Regions from separate parts of the Homo sapiens genome. Here all the other regions are reported to be linked to region 3. The links are microRNA targets in miRTarBase. Many come from high-throughput screens and were not tested one by one. Region 3 holds a microRNA gene; each other region holds the end of a gene's coding sequence.

Region 1 (4,263 bases), not on the chromosome of region 3:
ATTGCTGTATTTTTAGTAGAGACATGGTTTTGCCTTGTTGGCCAGGCTGGTCTTGAACTCCTGGCTTCAAGTGATCTGCCCGCCTCAGCCTCCCAAAGTGGTGGGATTACAGGCATGAGCCACCCCGCCTGGCCCCTAGTCTGGTCTTGAACTCCTGGGCTCAAGCAATTCACCTGCCTCGGCCTTCCAAAGTGCTGGGATTAATGGTGTAAACCACCACGCCCTGCTCAATTTTTGAAATGTTTTGTAGAGATGAGGGTCTCTCTATGTTGCCCAGGCTGGTCTCGAATTCCTGGCTTCAAGCCATCCTCCTGTCTTGGCCTCCCAAGGTGCTGGGATTACACTATGCCTGGCCTAAAATATTTTAAAAATTTGATGCATACATTGACATATACTAATTTATATTACAGTACCAGTGGCAAAACATTTTGAATATTACCCTTCCTTCGTGAATGTCCAATGAGACATCTGGAAGCTGCATGAGACAAGGGATGATGCTGTACTGTGTGGAGATTCCTGAATATTACAAGACATCTGCATCCCTGGACCACGTCTGCCAAGAGCCAAGAGCAGCTTCCAGTCATGATGATAATGCAAATCATCCCCATGCATTCCAGAATCCTCCCTGTGGACCTGCCAAGTCTCTTTGTGAACCATTTTTGGGTTCAGTGGTTAAAAGCAGGGGTTGGGTTACAAGAAGTCAGGCTTTGGATGTCTGAGCCTCAGGAGACTCGGCCAAACAGTAATCTTCTCTTGCTGGTCTATGAAGCCTCCTCCTCCCAGGAATGTACAATTGTGAAATATTACCAATCTCCCCAGTTTACAGGTTCAGAGAGGCAGCGACTTGTCTGAGAGTACAAAGAAACCAAGTGGCCAAGCCAGGATTCAAACCCAGCCAGACTCTGGGCCCCTTTACCGCGAACACACTCCTGTGGGAGGAGCGATCTCATTGCTTCCACTTCCCAAATGCAAGGTGGGGGCGCAGAGACAGAGTCAATAGAGGCCCTGGGAGAAGGTGGCAGCACTGGGAAACCCGGTCCTCTCCAACCTCAAGCCCATGTCTTTTCTTTTTTTCTTTTTTTTTGTGGGGGGATGGGATAATGCTCTGTTGCCGAGGCTGGAGTGCAGAGGTGCAATCAGAGCTCACTGCAGTCTTGATCTCCTAGGCTTAAGCAATCCTCCTGCCTCAGCCTCCCCAGTAGCTAGGACTACAGGTGCATGCCATTATGCCTGGCTGATATGGTTTGGCTGTGTTTCCACCCAAATCTCATCTCGAATTGTAGTTCTGATAATCCCCATGTGTCGTGGGAGGGACTGGGTGCGAGGTAATTGAATCATGGGGGCAGTTACCCCCATGCTATTCTCGTGATAGTGAGTTCTCATGAGATCTAATGGTTTTATAAGGAACTTTCCCCTTTTGCTTGGAACTTCTTCTTCCTGCCATCACAAGATGTGTTTGCTTCCCCTTCTGCCATGATTGTAAGTTTCATGAGGCCTCCCCAGCCGTGCTGAACTGTGGGTCGATTAAACCTTTCCTCCTTTATAAATTACCCAGTCTCAGGTAGGTCTTTATTAGTAGCATGAGAAGGGACTAAAACAGTGGCTATTTTTTTATTATTTTGTAGAGACAGGGGATCTCGCTATGTTGCCCAGGCTGATCTTGAACTCTTGGCCTTAAAGGATCCTCCAATTTTGGCTTCCGAAAGTACCGGGATTACAGGCATGAGCCACTGTGCCCAGTCCTTGCTTATTTTTAACATTTTGCCTCTTATTTATTATTTTATTTTTTTGAGATGGAGTCTTGCTCTGTTGCTCAGGCTGGAGGGCGGTGGCACAATCTTGGCTCACTGCAAGCTCCGCCTCCCGGGTTCATGCCATTCTCCTGCCTCAGCCTCCTGAGTAGCTGGGACTACAGGTGCCCGCCACCATGTCCAGCTAATTTTTTGTATTTTTAGTAGAGACGGAGTTTCACTGTGTTAGCCAGGATGGTCTCGATCTCTTGACCTTGTGATCCGTCCGCCTTGGGCTCCCAAAGTGTTGGGATTATAGGCGTGAGCCACCATGCCTGGCTTTATTTATTATTTTTAATTGACAAGAGTCTTGCTCTATTGCTCAGGCTGGTCTCGAACTCCCGAGCTCAAGTGTTCCTCCTGTCTCAGCCTCCCAAAAGTGTTGGGATCACAGGCGTGAGCCACCACGCCCGGCCAGCTTTTTTTTTTTTTTTTTAACCCGTGGTCTTGAATGCTGGGTGCTCACACCTGGGTGTGCAAAAGTCATTGGGATGAGGCAAGAAACATAAAAAAAACCCTATTCATATTCATAATTTTAAAATGGAATAATTTAAGCTTTATTACTAACATACAGATAATAGTATCTGTATATATTTATAAATAAATATACACATATTGGGAATACATGCCCAAATACCATTTATTCTTAGGTGCATAATCAAATAAGGAAGGCTGCCATTGCTTTCACCTGCTAAGTGGGTCTCCAAGCCCCTCTTGGGGACCATGACTAGAGAGGGGCATAGTGGGTAAGACAATTGTGGGCTCCAGAGCCTGACCACCTGGGTTCAAGCCCCCGATCTGCCCCTTCCTAAGCTGCCTGACCTTGAGCAAGTGACTTCACGATTCTGGCCTCAGCTTTTTCATCTGTGTAATGAAAATAATAGCAGCTGTCACTTCAGAGGGCTGAGGTGAGGGACGCATTAGTTGATCCAGGTGAAACACTGAGAATGGTGCCTGGTACCCAGTAGGTGCTCAGTGAGTGTGAGCTATGGTTATTGTCTACACTGCCGTGCAAGTGGGGAATTAGGTGCAGACAGCTGAAATAATGAGGTATTAGTCATGAGTGGAGCTGCGATTCAGAAGTCGGTTCTTTTTCTTTTTTAAAAATAGAGACGGGGTCTTGGCATGTTGCCGAGGCTGGTCTCAGACTCCTGGGCTCAAGCGATCCTCCCACCTCGGCCTCCCAAAGTGCTGGGATTACAGGCGTGAGCCCCCGCGCCCGGCCCAGCACCCGGTTCTCGACCACAGCCGCACCTCGGAGCTCTGAGCATTTCCTCCTCTGCAAGACTGAAATACTTCTATTCAGTCTTGAATAGAACAGTTAAGAGTAGCATGCAGGTCACAGGGCTCTCCCAGGAGGGAAGGAGGTCGCAGTCCAAAAGAAGGGGAGGTGGTCACTGCTGTCCGCCTCCCACAGGGGCTTGGAGAGAAGTCCAAAGGCTCAAGAGAGTAGATGGCTATGGAACACAGGCCCTGGGCGTACTGTCGCCCGGGCAGCCACAGTGGGCCACCAGGAGCGGGACCGGCGCGCCCTCTAGTGGCGGAAGCAACCCCTGCAGCCAAGGGTCCCGCATCCTGGAAGCAACTGAGGCACAGAGAGACTGCGACGCCCCCCCAGGCCCACCTGGCTCCGAAGCGATAGAGCCAGGATTTGAATCTCGCCAGTCTGGCTCCAGAGCCTGCACTGTTTCCAAAACTCTGCCCCTGCCCTAGAGCGCAGGGCTCTCGGAATCTTGGGCAGAACACTTTTTTCGGGTCTGGGGCTGTGCTGGGCCCTGCGGGACGGCGTGACATCCCCGTCTCCCTCCATGACTGAGATGACCCAGGATGTCCCCACGCATATCCACGGCTCCCAGTGGGCATGACCATTTGATAAATCTGGAGGTCGCTTCCCATCCTCGTCCTGGTGCTCTCCTCCTGCCAATGCCAGCCTTCTCTCATGCTCTCCTTAGAATTTCTTTCTTGGTCAGTTTCCCCCTTCCCCTCTCCGCGACATCCCTCCACCCCTCACCGCTCACACAGAGCTTCTCCACATCCAGACAGACCCCCGAAAAACAAAGGCGAGGTTATCAGGGCTTCAGCCGCTTCCCGTCAGACTCAGCAGTGCCGGGTTGGGGTACTGGGGGTTCTCGATGACCCCGGGCCCGAACTTGAGCTCCAGGAAGCGGCGGTAGTTGTTAGGCGCCTGCGCCACGAAGCCGGCAAAGGGCAGGGGCACCAGCGGCTGCAGGAAGTGCTCGGGAAACTCCACATCCTGCCGGTGGTCCAGCCACGTGTCCTTGGTCATGACGCCATTGCGGGGGTAGAAGGGCCACAGGTCCACGTGCAAGTGGTTGCTTTCGCTGTACTGCACGCGGAAAAAGTCGCCCTCGACCGCCTTCTCCCATACGAAGCCGCGCTCATCCACCACCGAGCCGGCCTCTGCCCCCCGCAGCTGCTCGCAGTTGCCCACGTCCTCCAAGTAGATGCCCAG
Region 2 (4,416 bases), not on the chromosome of region 3:
TTGTCTACAAAATCAGAAAACCTCCAAGACATCCAGCAATGACTACAATTACATAATCTGGTAATGATATATCCTAATGATAAATCACATATATCCACTGAATGTTTACCAAGTAAATATGGTTTAAAAAAATTACAAAACTATATACAGAATGATCTCAAATGAACCAAAATGCTTAATGTAGGTAGGAATATGAATTATTTTTAATTTTTAAATATTTTTTCTTTATTTTCCAAGTTTCCCACAAAGAAAATACATTTAAAATAAAAAGTCGGTGGCCAGATGTGGTGGCTCACACCTGTACTCCCAGCACTTTGGGAGGCCGAGGCAGGTGGATCACTTGAGGTCAGGAGTTTGAGACCAGCCTGACAAAACATGGTGAAACCCTGTCTCTACTAAAAATACAAAAGTTAGCTGGGCGTGGTGGCGCGTGCCTGTAATTCCAGCTACTCGGGAGGCTGAGGCTGGGGAATCACTTGAAACCAGGAGGTGGAGGTTGCAGTGAGCCGAGATCACGCCTCTGCACTTCAGCCTGGGCTGAGCAAGACTCCATCTCAAAAAAATAAATACATAAAAATAATTTAAAAACTCAATTATTTAAAAATCAGCTTGTTAAAAGACATGATTGAATACCATGGAGAATGAATGCACCTAGCAGGAAGCTCTGATGAGAAACCTGGCAATACTTCCCTTCTGTAAAAACACCCTGGGGTACAGGTGGGGCCGCCCATGCCAGGACTCTTCTCCACAAAGCCTTCCCGCCTTCCAGGTATGCAGCACATTGGTAAGTGTGCTCAGTAACAAACGCTTCCTCCCACCCAAGCCCTCTGCTCCCCCAGCAGCTTTTCCTGATGTGTGCTTACTCTGCACAGGTTCTCTGCTTGAGTACTCTACATGCATCATCTCATTTTATTCTTACAACCACCTTGAAGGTAAATAATATGCTCATTTTTCAGAAGAGAAAAAAAAGGCATAGAGGTCAACTCATTTGCTCAAGGTCATAGTCAGTAGCAGTGCTGTAACTCAAACCCTGATCTTCATACCCACAGTGTGCATCACCACTGAGCTACAGTCAGTAAGGCTTGTGAAGAAAAAAGAAAAAAACCACTCCAGCAGTTTCTGTCCACCATGTCCTAAAATCTTTAAAGCCAGATATAAAAACTGTCTTGGACGATTGAATAAGCAACTTCAATAGAAGGCATTTAAAAAAATTATTTGATAATTAATGAACTGTGCTAAAGTAAGTAAATGTACTAGTCTTGCTGTTCAGTAACTATTTTAAAAGGCACACCATCTACTACTCAGCCTTTTGAACTGAAGAAGGAAAACGTTTCGAACTCGATCTGAGTTTAAGATGTTGAATCAAGCAGCCTCCAGAACGGTATCTGACTGACTGTTCACAAGCAGCTTCAGGAAGAGCAAAGCCAAATAAATACTTAAGGAGCTCATGTGAGTGAAAAACATACAGAAACCATCACTAGCAATTCCCTGTTGTCCCAGACTTTCCAAATAAATTGTGGCTTAAAAATGGCTTCAGTAATATTTCAGTATCTTTCTACCAACGACCACTTAAGCCAAAGTAATAACGTAAAATGTAGTATTCCCATTACTGTGTCAAAACCAACAACAACAACAACAACAACAACAACAACAACAACAACAAAAAGCCCTTAAATGACTAGATGGTACAAATAGACTTAAGAGAACTTGAAATTTCTCATGCAACATTACAGAAACAAGTGGCTGGGCACAGTGGCTCAAGCCTCTAATCCCAGCACTTTGGTAAGCCGAGGCAGGCGGATCACAAGGTCAGGAGTTTGAAACCAGCCTGGCCAACATGGTGAAACCCTGTCTCTACTAAAAATACAAAAAATAGCCAGGCATGGTGATGCATGCCTGTATCCCAGCTACTCAGGAGGCTGAGGCAGGAGAATCGCTTGAACCTGGGAGGCGGAGGTTGCAGTCAGCTGAGATTGTGCCACTGCACTCCAGCCTGGGCAAGAGTGAGACTCCGTCTCAAAAAAAAAAAAAAAAAAAAAAAAAAAAATTCAAAATAAGAAAAACCATTCGAGTCAAGTGCCTAAGATTAAAAAAGTTATCACCAGGCACAGTGGCTCACGCGTGTAATCCCAGCACTTTGGGAGGCCGAGGCAGGCAGATCATGAGGTCAGGAGTTCGAGACCAGCCTGACAAATATGGTGAAACCCCATCTCTAATAAAAATACAAAAATTAGCTGGGCGTGGTGGCGGACGCCTGTAATCCCAGCTACTCGAGAGGCTGAGGCAGGAGAATTGCTCAAACCCAGGAAGTGGAGGTTGCAGTGAACTGAGATTGTGCCACTGCACTCCAGCCTGGTCAACAGAACAAGACTCTTATCTTGGGGGTAAAAAAGAAAAAAAAAAGGGATATCGATAACTCCTGTGACAAATCACTTGAGCTGGGAAGACAAAAGTTCCAGTTTAACTACACTGAATGGACAATGAACAATTCCAGCATAAACTGTGCCTCACAAAATTTAGATATTCTGATTCTTCATTCCTCAGAAACGAATGCTGTACAATTCCATGGGCCAGGCCAAGGGAGGGAGCCAGTGCAACCAAGCTCACCAGGCATCCGGCCGGATCCACCACTGGACTGGACTTCACGGTTCTAAGGTGTCAGGGTTTGAAAAGTTCCAAGTAACCTCCACTCTCCAGGGAACAGCAGAGATGAAAGAGATCAAAACATCCACAGTCTCAAGTACTCTCGACCGCCATCCCATTAAGCGAGGCAGAGCATTTCTCCCAGAGGAGCCACCTACCCAAAACTCACACTGCCACCTAGGAACTGCTACAGAAAATTCTAGTAAATAAGCCCCAAATCTATATTAATGTCCCCTTCCCCCATATAAAAAAAAAGACTAAATAATCTGAGTTTACATGATTTAGAAATTAGGATTTTACAGAGTCCAGGAAAGGAAAAGGAAGAAATTTAAAGAAATTCTTCATTTTTATAAAAGCATGAGAGAGCACTGAAAACCTGCCCTTAAGATGTTCTTAGGTACATATTTTAGGATTTTTATTGCTGATTACAGATTTGAAACTATGAAATGTGCACTGCTTGGCAAGTAACACAAGTAATTCTTTACTTATTCACATTTCCAATAAAAGCGTAAATAAACAGACAAAAAATATAAAGGACAAGAGAAATACAAATAGCAACAGCTTCAAAACAAAAGGATTTAGTAACAGAAAGTCTCCACAGTGTCCGTCAAAATTTAAGATTATCCAAACCGTGCAAACGCTCAACACAAACCAACGCCATACACTGAACTATTAATACTTGTCCCTTGAAGTTGCAAACTAGAAGCCACCCACATAACTGTATGATCACACAAACCAACTAATTTGCTCAAGGTTCAGGTTAAAGCAACATTTAATATCCTTTACAAGATGGAATTCGTGACAAGTTCAAAAGGAGAACTTCCTTTGTTTTAATGCAGCTGTGCTCAGAAGCCTGTGATTTCCTAGGAAACCATCTGGGTTTAGCCCATTAGAAAAATGCAGTTTAAAGCAGTGTCACACTGGCTGCCTGAAGGTACCCTTGGAGATACTGGAGCGCTTCTGCATTCAGGCTGGTGCTCACCATTGATGGAACCTACAAGAGATGGGAAACACACACTGGCTGTTGGAGATCTTGGTGCGCCAATACAAACCCCATCTTCTACGGGAGAGCTGCCACAGCTCTGGGAAGAGCAGCCAGTCAAGTCATTAATCACCATCCAAAAATTCTCCAGAAACTCAACTGCTTTTATGCCTTCAAAAATAGGTCTAAAGAAAAGATCCATAAGGAATTACTATTATTAGGTGTGATAGTGGTATTGTGGTTAATTAAAAAGTCCTTACTGGTTAATGATGTAGAATAAGGTACTTACGCGTGAAACGTATGATGTCTAAGACTTGCTCAATACAGAGAATAAAAGGAGAAACGAAACAAAACTGGCAAGATATTGGTAATTATTGAAGCTGGGCACATGCAGGCTTCATTATGCTCTTTCTATATATGTTTGAAAGTCTCCGTAATAATACAATGAAAAAATATATATACATATATATACACACGCCACACACATATATGTTTTTTAAGAAACGGGACCTCGCTCTGTTGCCCAGGCTGGATTGCAGTGGCACTGTAATAGCTCACTGCAGCCCTGGCCTCCCAAAGCACTAGAACTACAGGCATAAACCACTGTGTCTGGCTTGAAAAATATATATTTTATCAGGTAACATGTAAGAACTCTATAATAAGTGCTGACAAAATGCAACTATACAGTCATTATTAGGTTTATGCCATGATCTATTAATTTCTGAGTATGCTGCAATTAAAAAAAAATAACTGTGTCCAGGCTCACACTTGTAATCCCAGCACTTTGGGAG
Region 3 (4,259 bases):
TGCCGGCCTGGGCCTCCTGTGTCTTGCTTGCCAGGCGGCGATTTGCAGATTCCAATCTCTCTGTTTCAAGGGAAGGAAAGATGTTTTAGTGTCAGGTGAAGCTGCCAGCTTGGGATTTTTCCTGACGTCCTATCAGGATGGGGCTGTATCCTCCATATTGGGGATGGGTTCATAAGGAAACCCCAGCTCAGCTCAGGGCCCCATGGGTGGGAGCCTCCTCTGTCAAGAGCCATCATCCCTGAGGGGATCCTAGGCCCAGTACATAGAGACAAGCATCTCTCTATCAGGGCAGCTCCAAAGGGGTCTCAGCCTGGCTCTCTGAGTTCATCTGCACTTTTGACAGAGAATAGAGATTCCCAATTTTTCTCTAGAACAAAAGAAGTAAGTCCTCTGCAGAGGTTCTCCAACCTCCACCTGTGTGACTGGCTCTCACCTCTAAGATCCCGGTTGAAGTCTTGCAGCCTCCTCATTTCACTGTCCATCTTGTTCCGCATGGTCTTCTCCAGGGCCTCACGCTTGGAGGAGGCTCTGGTCAGGCTCTCATGGGCCTCAGAGAGCCGCTGGATTTCGCTTTCCAGCTGCAAGAGTCAGACAGCAGAGCTGAATGAAGGCGAGAGCTCCCAGGGAGTGATTCGAGGCTGACCCACTACTCTCCATCAGAAAAGGTGACAGATGAGAGGCCACCAAACAGGAGCAAAACCTCCAGGTGACTATGGTGGGATGGTCAGAAGCTTGTAGCCTCCGGAAGTAGAATAGACTGCTGGGACCAGCAAGCAACGGTCCCATCGGCTGCCCCAAGGACCAGATGCTGAGTGAACCCAGGGCCAGGTACTTTGGAAGTAGCTGCCTGCGGGGTGACTAAACACAGCTTCCCTGTGCCCAGTGTCCAGAAGGAAACATTCTACTCTTGGCTGGCTTCCACCAAGAAACTGAGTACAGTTGGCCAGAAGTGGGCACCGAAAGACTCCAGCCATGATGGGGTGGTTTGACCTAACTTGGACACCACAGGACAGTCAAGGGAGGCCTGAGGCCATCTGCTAAAACTGAGCCTCAGCGGAAAACTGGTAACCCTTCACTAAAGAAGCGGGCACCAGGCAGAGCTGCCTCTGCCTGGTGTCCCAGGCATCACCATCCACCCAGAGGGCCAGCTGGGCCCCGGCTGCTCCTCCCACTTGGCTGCTGGCAGGTTCCGCACGTGCTCTTAGCTGGCCTGTGATTCCAACAAGTCGCCCATTTTTTTTCCAAGAGGAGAAGTTTTCTTTTTGGCCAGGGCTGGCCTGGAACAGACTTGCTGTTGTGTGGGGGACACAAAGGGCTCTCTGTGGGAGGTGTCCATGGGAGGGGGTGTGTGCAGGGCAAGGGTGCGAGTGTGCAAGGAGCTGGTGAATGGGCTCTTTCTAATCACCACTGGCCAGCAACTGTTCATGCTCCAGGCCTGCTCTGCCGGCCTCTCGGCTGTTCCCCAGCTGTCTGGAGTCAGCTCAGGAGGGTGCATGAGGAGTGAGGGAGGTGGAAGACAGAGGGATAGGGAGAAATCCAGCCAAACAGTTTTCAGGCTCCTCTGCCTCTCCTTGGACTACCCACTCCCCAGGTAGCCCCTCGGGGTCTCTTTCTGGTCTGCCCTTCTGAAGCCCCAGCAGGGCCTACCTTCTCAATGCGGCCAGCCTTCTCCGCAGAGCTCTCCAGCTCCCTCTGCAGCCGCTCATTGTCTCTCTGCAGCCTGGCATTCTCCCTCAGCACGGCCTCCATCTGGGCCAGGTGGGCACTGCCCGAGGTGGCTGAGGAGGCCTGGGCACTCACTGGCCCCTCCACAGCAGGTGGACTGAGGGAGCTCAGGGGGCCATGGCCGAGAGCAGCTGGATGTGGGGGAGGGGGGTGCTCCTGAGATTGCTGCAGGTACTGGTACTGCTGCTGCTGTTGGAGGAACACAGGAGGCACCTGGGCCTGCAGGATCCTGGGGAACAGAAGAGACGGTGCTCAGAGACAGCACAGACCCTCATGGCTCCCACCAGAGCAGCCCGGGGTCACCCCACTCCTAGGCATACTGGGAAGATGGTTAATTATTATCAATAATTAATATATTATTAAAATTACTGCAGATAATTATTCAACCCTCTAGTGTTAGGCAGGGACCAGTAGGGAAGGCCTTTTCCAAATGTTTCTGCCTGAGGCTCTCAAGAGTCAGACAGCAGGGCTAGAGGGGATTAATGTCAGGATGCTTGTTTCATACCCGCCTCACAGTGGCTGGGGCCTTGGGGATCAGCCTGAGCAATCCTGGGCCTCCTAAGCAACTAATGCTTAAATACATCATCTTAAAAAATGCACCCTGACACTTCTAATCAATGGAAGGTTATTTTTGGGGCTGGAGGCCATGTCAATCATGACTGAGCATATAACCTTCCAGGCCCCAGGACAACTTTGGTGGCTGGGCCCCAGCAGCAACCTTGTGTCTATTACACGAGTCGCCAGTTTCAAGACTGCCAAAGCAGCACTCATTTTCTCCTTCCTATTTCAAGTCCTGCCACCCCCCACCCCCCACTCACCCAGAGTCATTTTTAGAAGACTCCAGTTAAGGTTAGAGCAATGAGACAAATGTCAGGGTAAGAGTCTGAGCTCTAGAGTCTGACAAATAGGGGTTCAAATCCCTGCTCCAGCTGTTTAACCTTGGGCGAGTGCCTCAGCCCCACAGACTGGGCATTGCTCTGTTGCATCATGAGGGTCTCCAGCCTCGCTGGGATTTGTTGAGGATGACGCTATGTAAGGCCTGGCAGAGTGCTGGGCCAGTGCTGGGCGGGTGGCAGGTGCTCCTATAATGGTGGCCCATCCTCCATCTCTTCTAGTAGGAGCCTCAGTTTACCCTCAGTTTAGAGAACAAATGTGGCCCAAACTCTTGGTTTCCTTGGGAGTAAGGGCTGCCTCTGGACTACTGTGGTCACTGAGTTCAGGGGACAATATTCTATTGGCCTCTGGCACTGGTGTAACATCACCCCCAGGGCTCCATGTTGAGGGAAGGAGCAAAGGGCAAGAGGCACGGGGAGTCCAAGGGCCTTCCTGGGACCTTGTGATTCCCAGTGTCACAACTGCCTCAGTTTCACAAAGAATCTTCCAAGTCCCAGAAGCCCCGCAAAAACCGAATTCCCCTTCTGGGTGCATCATCTCAGCACTAATGCACACCCAGCCTGCCCCTGACTCTTGCTGCCATGCAGCCTATGGCCCCCCTGCTCTTCTCAGGACCCTAGGCTAGGAGTCTAGCCCGTTTCCTAACAAATAATCTTCACTGGATCATCTGAAAGGAGATATTGGGCAGATGTATTTCTCCTACTACCTAAGGTGGGGCTTCCAGTAAGAGCTGGGAAGAGGGTCCCCACTGGAGTGCTCAAACTCTCCATTCCACTGCTAAAATGGCCATTCTCAAGGTTGCTTCAAGAACTTGCTCCCCCCTGCACTGGGCCAGGCAGACACAACTGGCATTCTTTGGGGATGACTTAGCTCTGAGAAAGAATAGCAACTCCTTTCCCTTCACACTTGCTTTCCTTTCTCCTCGTCCTCTCCCTCCCCTGCTTTTTGTTCTCCTGCAAACAGTCTACTTCCTTGCCGTGATTACTATCTTTTCCTGACAGGGTTCAATAAGGCTGGTCCAAAAGAAGAAACCACCACTCAGCTTCCGAAACTCTTCCTGACCGAGCCCTGAGAGGGGCGATAAAGTGCGAGTCTGGAGGGGTGGAGGCTGGAGAAAAACTATGAGGCTCCAACCTCTGGTTCCGCCATACCAACCCCATCATGTCACTCATTTCTCGAGAGCAAGGAAAGCCGGACGGTGGGAAAGTGGGTGTTTACTAAAGGAACACAGCAGGCATGAAGAGAACCAGACTTTGACCTTGGGCCACCAGAGGAAGAGTCTGAAATCCTTGGGGTCCCTTGGTGGGGTTTCTTGGACTCCCATAGGGGGAGATGCAGCAGTGATGGCTGTGTCTGCTTCTCTGGAAAAGATGCTGGGCAAGATGAGAAGCGTGAGGCAGGGCCTTGTTTCTAGGAACACTTATTTCTCCAAACTCTCTAGACTTCTTGCCTCCCCGGGTCTTCCTGCTTCCATTCTGGCCCCTTACAAACCATGCTCTGCATGTAGCCAGAGAGAGCATTTAGAAAAGGTAAACCAAATCACATCCCCTGAGGGCCTCCCAGCACACTCAGAATCAAACTCTAAGTCCCTACCATGGCCCAGCAGCCTCTCCTGAGCCTCACCAGAAAAGGGCCCACTT
Region 4 (4,416 bases), not on the chromosome of region 3:
TGAAGCACAGAGCACCTTTATGGTTGGATCATCTTGTCATTAAAGTTCAGGCGTTATCTATCCTGTAAGTGGCAGAATCAAGACTGCAATATCGCCTGCTTTTCTTTTTAACTCATGTTTTCCCTTGACTACACTGGTCCTCAAAGTAAAACCCCTGTGTCAGTGTACTATTCATGGAATACTCTGCAATTATAACCACCTTCTAATACTTTTAATACCCAATCAAAATTTATTATACATATGTATCATAGATACTCATCTGTAAAGCTGTGCTTCAAAATAGTGATCTCTTCCCAACATTACAATATATATTAATGATGTCGACAATTTGATAATGAAACATTGTCCAAAATATTCCCCATTAATACAACAAAGACATAATTATTTCTATTTCCATGCCAGCCATAAGCATAATTTTGCAAAGTGATCATCTTAGAATTATTTAATCTCTAAATACAGCAAAAACAAGAAACCAAGTTAATATTGTTTTATTACATCTCCCCACATCTGTAAATATTACTTTACGCATCCAATTTTTGCTTATTTTAAGCAGCCAAGTTTCTTTAAAAGCAAAGTAACTTCTTTTAATAGCAATACTAAAACTCTGTTTAAAACATTGCAAAACAAACCCCACTGCATTTTAGACAGCTGCTTCCTTATAAAAGTAAGAAAAAACATTCTGTATATTTACATAAAAAATTCTAAATCATTCACTGGGGGAAAAATGAAAGCTTTAAAAATATATTTTCTTGCACACTCAAATACCATAAATTTCACCTTACACATATAAGGAAATAATAATACTACATATGTGAAAATATAGAAATGAATCCCTAAAATTAAATTTTCATTTGAGAGAAAAGAATTACAAATTCGGGCATACATGCAGACCAGGTGGTTTTCAGCATGTTCAAAGAACAAAGAGATGGTTAGAGGTTTTATAAACAGGGAAGTGATACTGGTTGCTCTTTGAGAAAGTTTATCGGCACTAGTAAAGTCTTGGGGAGGTAGCAGGTTTTGATCGGTGAGTGAGGGAGTGAGCAAAACACAGTGGGTGTTTCAGTAGCCGTTAGATAAAACTGGCTTCTGGATACAGCAGGAAATTTCAGCAACTAGGCTTACAGAGAATTCCATTCTCAGACCAATATTTTGTGCCCTGAGTTCTTTCTCCCCCTGGCTTCTCGACTGTCTTTTGGTTGAGTATTTCAAGATTGATCCAATTCGTATGATCAACTTTCACACATGTTCAAAATGATTACATTAAAAGAAGACGACTTTAAACGGAAAACAAGGCCGGGAGCGGTGGGTCATGCCTGTAATCCCAGCACTTTGGGAGGCCGAGGCAGGCGGATCACGAGGTCAGGAGATCGAGACCATCCTGGCTAACACAGTGAAACCCCGTCTCTATTAAAAATACAAAAAATTAGCCGGGCGTGGTGGTGGGCGCCTGTAGTCCCAGCTACTCAGGAGGCTGAGGCAGGAGAATGGCGTGAACCCGGGAGGCGGAGCTTTCAGTGAGCAGAGATCGGAGCCACTGCACTCCAGCCTGTGCGTCAGAGCGAGACTCCGTCTCAAAAAAAAAAGGGGGGGGGGGGGGCAATAAAAAGTCTAAGTCTAAAACACATAGATTTTAGGGTCAAATTAGAAAACAGAAAATGTAGGAATAAATCAGAATTTTAGATAGGCATTTAATTCATAGACCTTCTTAGTGCCCAGAAGGAGGGCTGCAGAAGGAATACAACAATTCCCATGAATGCCTTGTTTGTTCTGCACAACCAGTTCAGGCTCATCCTGCAAATGCCTTCAGACTCATCATGCAGTCAGCTCTGTCTCCTTGATTTCTCACTCCAAATAAGGTGAGCCATAGAGAAGAGGTTGGCTGATCCCTCACCGGACTCAAATGGCAGTTGCCATTGGCCTGAGAAAGGAAAAGGCAGTGCCAAGCCTAGGAAAAAGTATGAAGCAGACGATGTTGCTTTTACTCCCACCCATATTCCTTGTGGCCTCTCCTTGCCCTTGAAGGCCTGCATCTTCCTGTTGCCCTCTGACTGTACAAATAACCTACTTGGGCTGCTTTCTCCCAAAGTTCCCTCTGTTCTAAAATGACAACTTGATCTTTTTCTTTTATACATTCAAAATTTCTATTTCTTCTATTATTTTAAAATTTCTCTGGAGAAAGCAAACTGATTAAAAATTAATTCACGCTGAAGGATGGTGGAAAACCTGGAGTCACTTAAGGGAATCTCTGCTGGAGGTGTTGCTTTAGCAGAAAGCCGAAAGAAGGGGGCCCACAAGGCCTGGCTTTCCTTGATTCAGGCCAATGCCACTCAGAAGAAGGGCAGTGAGGAGAAAAATGAAATTTTGTAGCTCCCAGACCTGATCAGGTGTCAAGTTTGTGGGGCTTAGGTTTAAGGACAATCAATCTCCCCAGGGTGCTTTCAGTAAGATCCTCCCCTCAGCTCCCTCTAGCCTCTAAACTCTAGGAGGACATGGTTATTTGGATCTAAATTAAAAAGATGTTGGTCACTATAAGAGAGAATAGAAACAGCAATAGAGGATTTAACTTCAGTAAAGGTAAGTTTTAAAATGTTTTTGTTATTAGCTCCCCGAAAAAAACACCTCATCTCTGGACCCTTGCTACCAAAAAGCAGGGAACCCCAGCTGCAGCGAGTATTCCCCAGTTTGCTACTAACTTGTGGATGCAGAAATCTTGAAACAGACTGCAAAGCAAAGCTACTGTTCCATTGGATTCCCTATTTCCTTCCCACAGAAACCAGAAAAGTTTAATTTATTTACAATTTTAAACAAATTACACAAATTGGACAGGAACTATTTCCTCATAGACTCAGTTATAATGCAGCATTTAAGAGCCCAGGCCTAGGAAGCTCTCTCTTTTTTCTATTGTAGGACAAACTATACCCCAGCCTCATTTCAAGTTTTTACCATTTTCCTCTTTGTTCTCATTTCATTTTAAATATTGCATTGATTAATAATAATATACACACACACATTTATTTCCAACTATATTCCTATAGAAAATTGCTACTTCATAGGGCACTTCAACACATTTTGCCTCCAAAGTCAAATGAATTTGGTAGTGCAGTAGGGGTGAGTCCCAATTCTTTATGAGCTGCAACATTTTTAATTTAATTCAGTCTTCATTGTTTCTTTTCCAAAACTTTCTTCACATAGTGATACTCAATATTTCTTGTTTATTTTTTAAACTATCACTTAAAGTGAATACATAATAATGTGATATTAGCATAACTTAGCTATTGTTGGACTAATATTTATCCAGCATATTTATTACTAAAATATCCGTAAAAAAAAAAAAGAGCAGATGCTTTAGAGACCTTAATTCCAGTGCTGGAGTTTGAGATTTACCAGTTGTCTGTTTTAACATTTTTCACTTTTTGGAAAAGATAAGCAACAACTTGCTTTAAAAATATAAATTGGTGAGTAGCATAATTCAAAATTGAGAAAAAAATCATCATATACATACATGTTGAAATTGAACTTTACAATATTATTTTTGGAAACCTCCAGAATGTCTGACAAAGACCTAATTGTAGCACTGTGACATTATCTCTTTGTGCATGCTTCTGCTAATGTAATAAATTTGGGTTCCAAATTATTTAAAAAGTCAAGGCCATCTTCTTCCTGCTTTTCACTGCAGCAGCCCACAGAACCAGCTGGAGATCCTCTTCCCTCATAGTTATAAGTGAGGACATAATCTTGGGATGGCATGCGGTCTTCATTCTGATTACATCGATGCAATTTCTGTAAAATTTTTTAAAAAATGAATTGCATTATAGTTTTAAACAACTTAAATATATGAACATAAAATTTATTTTTATTTACCTTTTATGTTTAATTTTTAACCAGTGTGTCCTCTAATGGATTCCTACACACAGAAAATGCAAATGATTGGTCTATATCACAACCATACCATAAAGTCAGTATAGTTTACATTTCTAGTGCTCCATATAAATAAAAAATTATGTATACAAGTTTTATATTTAAGTACATTCAAGTTGTCATTAAATGCTTATCCCTAAATTTTATACACAGAGGTCAGTCTAGTCTAAAAAATAGAGACAATAGTCATACTGGTTAGGAGTTTGAGATAGGATGTCAAACAGCCTTGGTTGTGAGTCAAAGCTCTGGCTTTACCAACTAGCTATATGACTTTGGGCAAGTGACCAAATATCCTTTAGTCTCAGTGACCACCTAACAAGATTATTTTAGAAATTAATGACAAAATAATGACGCATAATACACTTATTATGCCCAGCACATATTAAAGGTACAATACATGTTAACTTGAATCACTATTATATGCAGTTATAAACTAGGTAGGATTTACCACATTAACTTCAGAAGCAAGTTTCCAAGATACTCAAACATGGCAAAATA
Region 5 (3,000 bases), not on the chromosome of region 3:
TCAGTGGCCTCTTGTCTTTCAGAACACCCAGTGCATCCCAGAAGGCTTGGAGAGCTACTACGCGGAGCAAGACTCCAGTGCCCGGGAGAAATTTTACACAGTCATAAACCACTACAACCTGGCCAAGCAGAGCATCACGCGCTCCGTATCGCCCTGGATGTCAGTTCTGTCAGAAGAGAAGCTGTCCGAGCAGGAGACTGAAGCGGCTGAGAAGTCAGCTTAGCGGGATGGGCAAGTTCCTTACAATGTGTCACTTGCAAATAACAAAGGGACTTTGAGGGACATTTCATTAAATATAATTACTGATACTTTAGAGGTTACTCATTTACGGTGCAATTGCTTCTGTTTGCTAATGCTGCTTTGCAAATAAAACTTGCTGCCGACCACCCACGGGCATAAAATCAAGTGCATTTCAGCATTGCCTAAAGAGCTCTGACACCACTTTTCATGTTAAGATCTTCATTTAGCTCCTTTACTGGGATTTATTGGATGCTGTAAAAAAATAAATTTACACTGGATATGCGAAGGGTTTGGATCTCAGATAAATGCATTTTGTGGAATTGATTTTCTGAACCGACCCTGCTGTCTGCAAACCTTCCTCCATAGCCATATCTAGAGTGATCTCTCGCTGTGCTAAGAGCAAGCCTACTTCGCATTTCTTCCTCGGCCATCAGCGGGTAACAGTGCTGACTGCTGCCAAGGTGCACTGTAGTAAGTAAGTGGCATAGAGAACGAGGAAAAAGACCCCCCCACCCCTCCCTGTGCTGACTCCTGAGTCGGGGTGGGACGGCCCTGCAATGTGGCAGGCTCGGTGTGGATTGACTACTCCCTCCCCTCTGACTCTGGCATCTTGGTAAGGAGGGAGGGGCACCACCCATCTGGGTGGAGACAGCTGGGGTTTGCTCCAGTGTGTGTAGACTGGCAGAGCATGTGAGGGAGAGGGCTGGGAAGAGACGGCCCTGGGCCCGTGAGGTGCAGAACTCTCCCTGCAGGTAGTCTGTCTGCTCTGTGATGTGCTGATAGGAAAGAGCCCCCACTGGCCCTCTGGTTCACTTCTATTATGAATAAATTTGCACCAATAGCCCCATTAGTTTTTAAAGAAATGAGCTGGGTGGGAAAAGTGGAAATGTAATTTCTGGTAAGCTTGAGCTACTTTAATTTTTATTCTATGAAACTGATATCCCTTGATGTGGGAAACAGGCAGGAAAGGCTGTGGGGTGGGGGTGGGGGACTGGTGTGGCACCGTGCAAACAAAATGACAAATTTCAACTCACAATCTTTGTAAGAAAATTGTTCCAGTTTGAATCTTGATATTAAAGTTTATGTTTACAAAACTGCCAGTTAGATGAACTAAGTGTGTAAAACAAATAGAAAAGACATTCGCAGACATTTCTTCTATGTTATTGAATGTGTTGTTTCTGGTGTACGTGTCAAAAGTTTCAGTTTTTTAGATCAGAAATAAACGACAAATAGTGTGAGATGTGTTGTGAACAGGCATGGTGACCGTGGTCAGCGCCACTCTTGTTTCCTGAAATGTGCTTCTAAGACAGAAAATGTATTTTCTCATCAAGGGTGTCTGGAGACACAGACCGTGACCTTGGCGCAGCGGTGTGCATCAGAGGCGTGTGCTGAGAAGGGTGGTGTTAAGCTGTGGAAAATGACTCAAGAGCAATAAATCAGTGCCAAAGCTTCCCTGCGCATCTGAATAGACACAAGTGAAGCCCGTGTGCGCACAGTGCAGAGGCCGAGCCTGTATTTCCAGGTAGACGTGGACTTTATTGACTGTGAATTCATTTACATGTAACTTCTGACATTTCACTCTGTGCAAATAAAGAACATGAGGATACCTGTGCTGCCCAGTGGACTGTCTGTACACACACGCATTTCACCAGGCGCAGTGCAGACTGTCTCATGCCCATGTGGGCGCTGGGATGCTTCCTGTACAGATGTCTCATGCCTTCAGTTACACATAGGTGTTCCTGTTTACAGTTCCTGGAGGTCAGAAGCACAGGCACGAGAGAAGCAGGCCCGTTCTTCCGTGGCCCACTTCTTCCTTTGAACAAAGGCTCCTTGGACCCAGTGGCGGGAAACTGGCCCTCCCACACCCCCTGCCTGTTCTGGGGGCAGCAGTCTTTGGAGGAGTAATGCCAGGCAGCCCCTCACTGAGGGCCCCAGTCTCCCCTGCATTTCTTCCCTGATTGATTGATAGGAGGTGGCTGGGCTGCCACTGAATTTGTCAACTTAGACTCATTGACAACACATTAAGGGGCTGTAATTATATTTATTAGATTAACAAGGCAGATGTGAATTTTCTCTTCTATAATCCAGTAAGTCTGTGTATTCGTTGACTCAGACAGACAAGAAGCCACAAGGAAACAAAGAAGTAATCATTTGTTGAGAGACGTTATTAACTATGATCTTCCCTGAAGCTACCGGGATGGGAAAGGTCAGTGTCTTCCTTTGAACCCTGAGACAATTAGGGGCTCTTGAGGCCTGCTGTGCCCCTGCTGCCAAGGCAGCCTCAAGTTCAAGGAGCAGCTAATCACCCACTCCTGCATTCAGTCTGTCTTGCCTGATGAGGGCTACGCAGGCTGCCTCCCATTGGTGTGCACTGTTTCCTTTTTCAGCTGCTAAATGGCTGAACACCATCGGCCTGGGGTATCCCTTTTTGGGGAATACGTCTGTCTGTCTGAACTCCTTTCCCTTCAAATGGCACTGTGATAAAATCTGGTCATACCATGCTCCAGCACTGGAAGTACATGAAAGCACGCAGTCTGTGAGTGCCCATGAGGACTCTCGTGCTGGGCCCCCGTGGCCCTGGCTAGCTGTCGTACCAGTCGAGGAAGAGCAAGGAGAAGGAGCACATCACGAGGAAGAAGAGGATCCACACGCGGAAGCCAGCGTTGTTTTTAATGGCCTGGGCAGGGACGGGAGCACAGGTGTTTTTATCACACAGGATTTTGGTTTGAGCAGCCCTGAAATGCCCCCCTCTTCCCACGT

What was found. The annotated mature microRNA hsa-miR-6827-3p reads ACCGUCUCUUCUGUUCCCCAG and lies in region 3 at 1,955-1,975, opposite strand. An mRNA with a match to its seed (bases 2 to 7 or 8) in the 3' UTR can be bound and repressed. Matches are read on the target gene's strand: a 7mer-m8 pairs with bases 2 to 8, a 7mer-A1 pairs with bases 2 to 7 and ends in A, and an 8mer does both.
Region 1: the mRNA of FKRP is a reported target of hsa-miR-6827-3p. Seed matches in the 3' UTR shown: 7mer-m8 at 3,587-3,593.
Region 2: miRTarBase lists CSE1L as a target of hsa-miR-6827-3p. The part of its 3' UTR that is shown has no 7-base or 8-base seed match.
Region 4: the mRNA of DSC3 is a reported target of hsa-miR-6827-3p. Seed matches in the 3' UTR shown: 8mer at 1,566-1,573 and 7mer-m8 at 1,399-1,405.
Region 5: miRTarBase lists NSG1 as a target of hsa-miR-6827-3p. Seed matches in the 3' UTR shown: 7mer-m8 at 951-957.

The regions. Positions count from the first base shown.
Region 1 is chr19:46,756,543-46,760,805 of GRCh38, reverse strand. It overlaps FKRP (fukutin related protein), which reads right to left. Exons shown (of 4, transcript NM_024301.5): 4 at 2,231-4,263. The coding sequence ends at 3,868. Among named protein-coding and RNA genes, the nearest start is that of STRN4, 12 kb to the right of the region's middle.
Region 2 is chr20:49,095,570-49,099,985 of GRCh38, reverse strand. CSE1L (chromosome segregation 1 like) reads right to left here. Exons shown (of 25, transcript NM_001316.4): 25 at 3,037-3,637. The coding sequence ends at 3,548. Among named protein-coding and RNA genes, the nearest start is that of CSE1L, 51 kb to the right of the region's middle.
Region 3 is chr3:134,365,850-134,370,108 of GRCh38, forward strand. MIR6827 (microRNA 6827) reads right to left here and starts at 2,013; the gene lies at 1,955-2,013. AMOTL2 (angiomotin like 2) reads right to left here. Exons shown (of 10, transcript NM_016201.4): 3 at 1,648-1,954; 4 at 434-578; 5 at 1-60.
Region 4 is chr18:30,990,593-30,995,008 of GRCh38, forward strand. DSC3 (desmocollin 3) reads right to left here. Exons shown (of 16, transcript NM_001941.5): 16 at 1-3,780. The coding sequence ends at 3,583. Among named protein-coding and RNA genes, the nearest start is that of DSC3, 50 kb to the right of the region's middle.
Region 5 is chr4:4,417,213-4,420,212 of GRCh38, forward strand. NSG1 (neuronal vesicle trafficking associated 1) reads left to right here. Exons shown (of 5, transcript NM_014392.5): 5 at 23-1,846. The coding sequence ends at 223. It overlaps STX18 (syntaxin 18), which reads right to left. Exons shown (of 11, transcript NM_016930.4): 11 at 1,756-2,917. The coding sequence ends at 2,822. Among named protein-coding and RNA genes, the nearest start is that of NSG1, 32 kb to the left of the region's middle.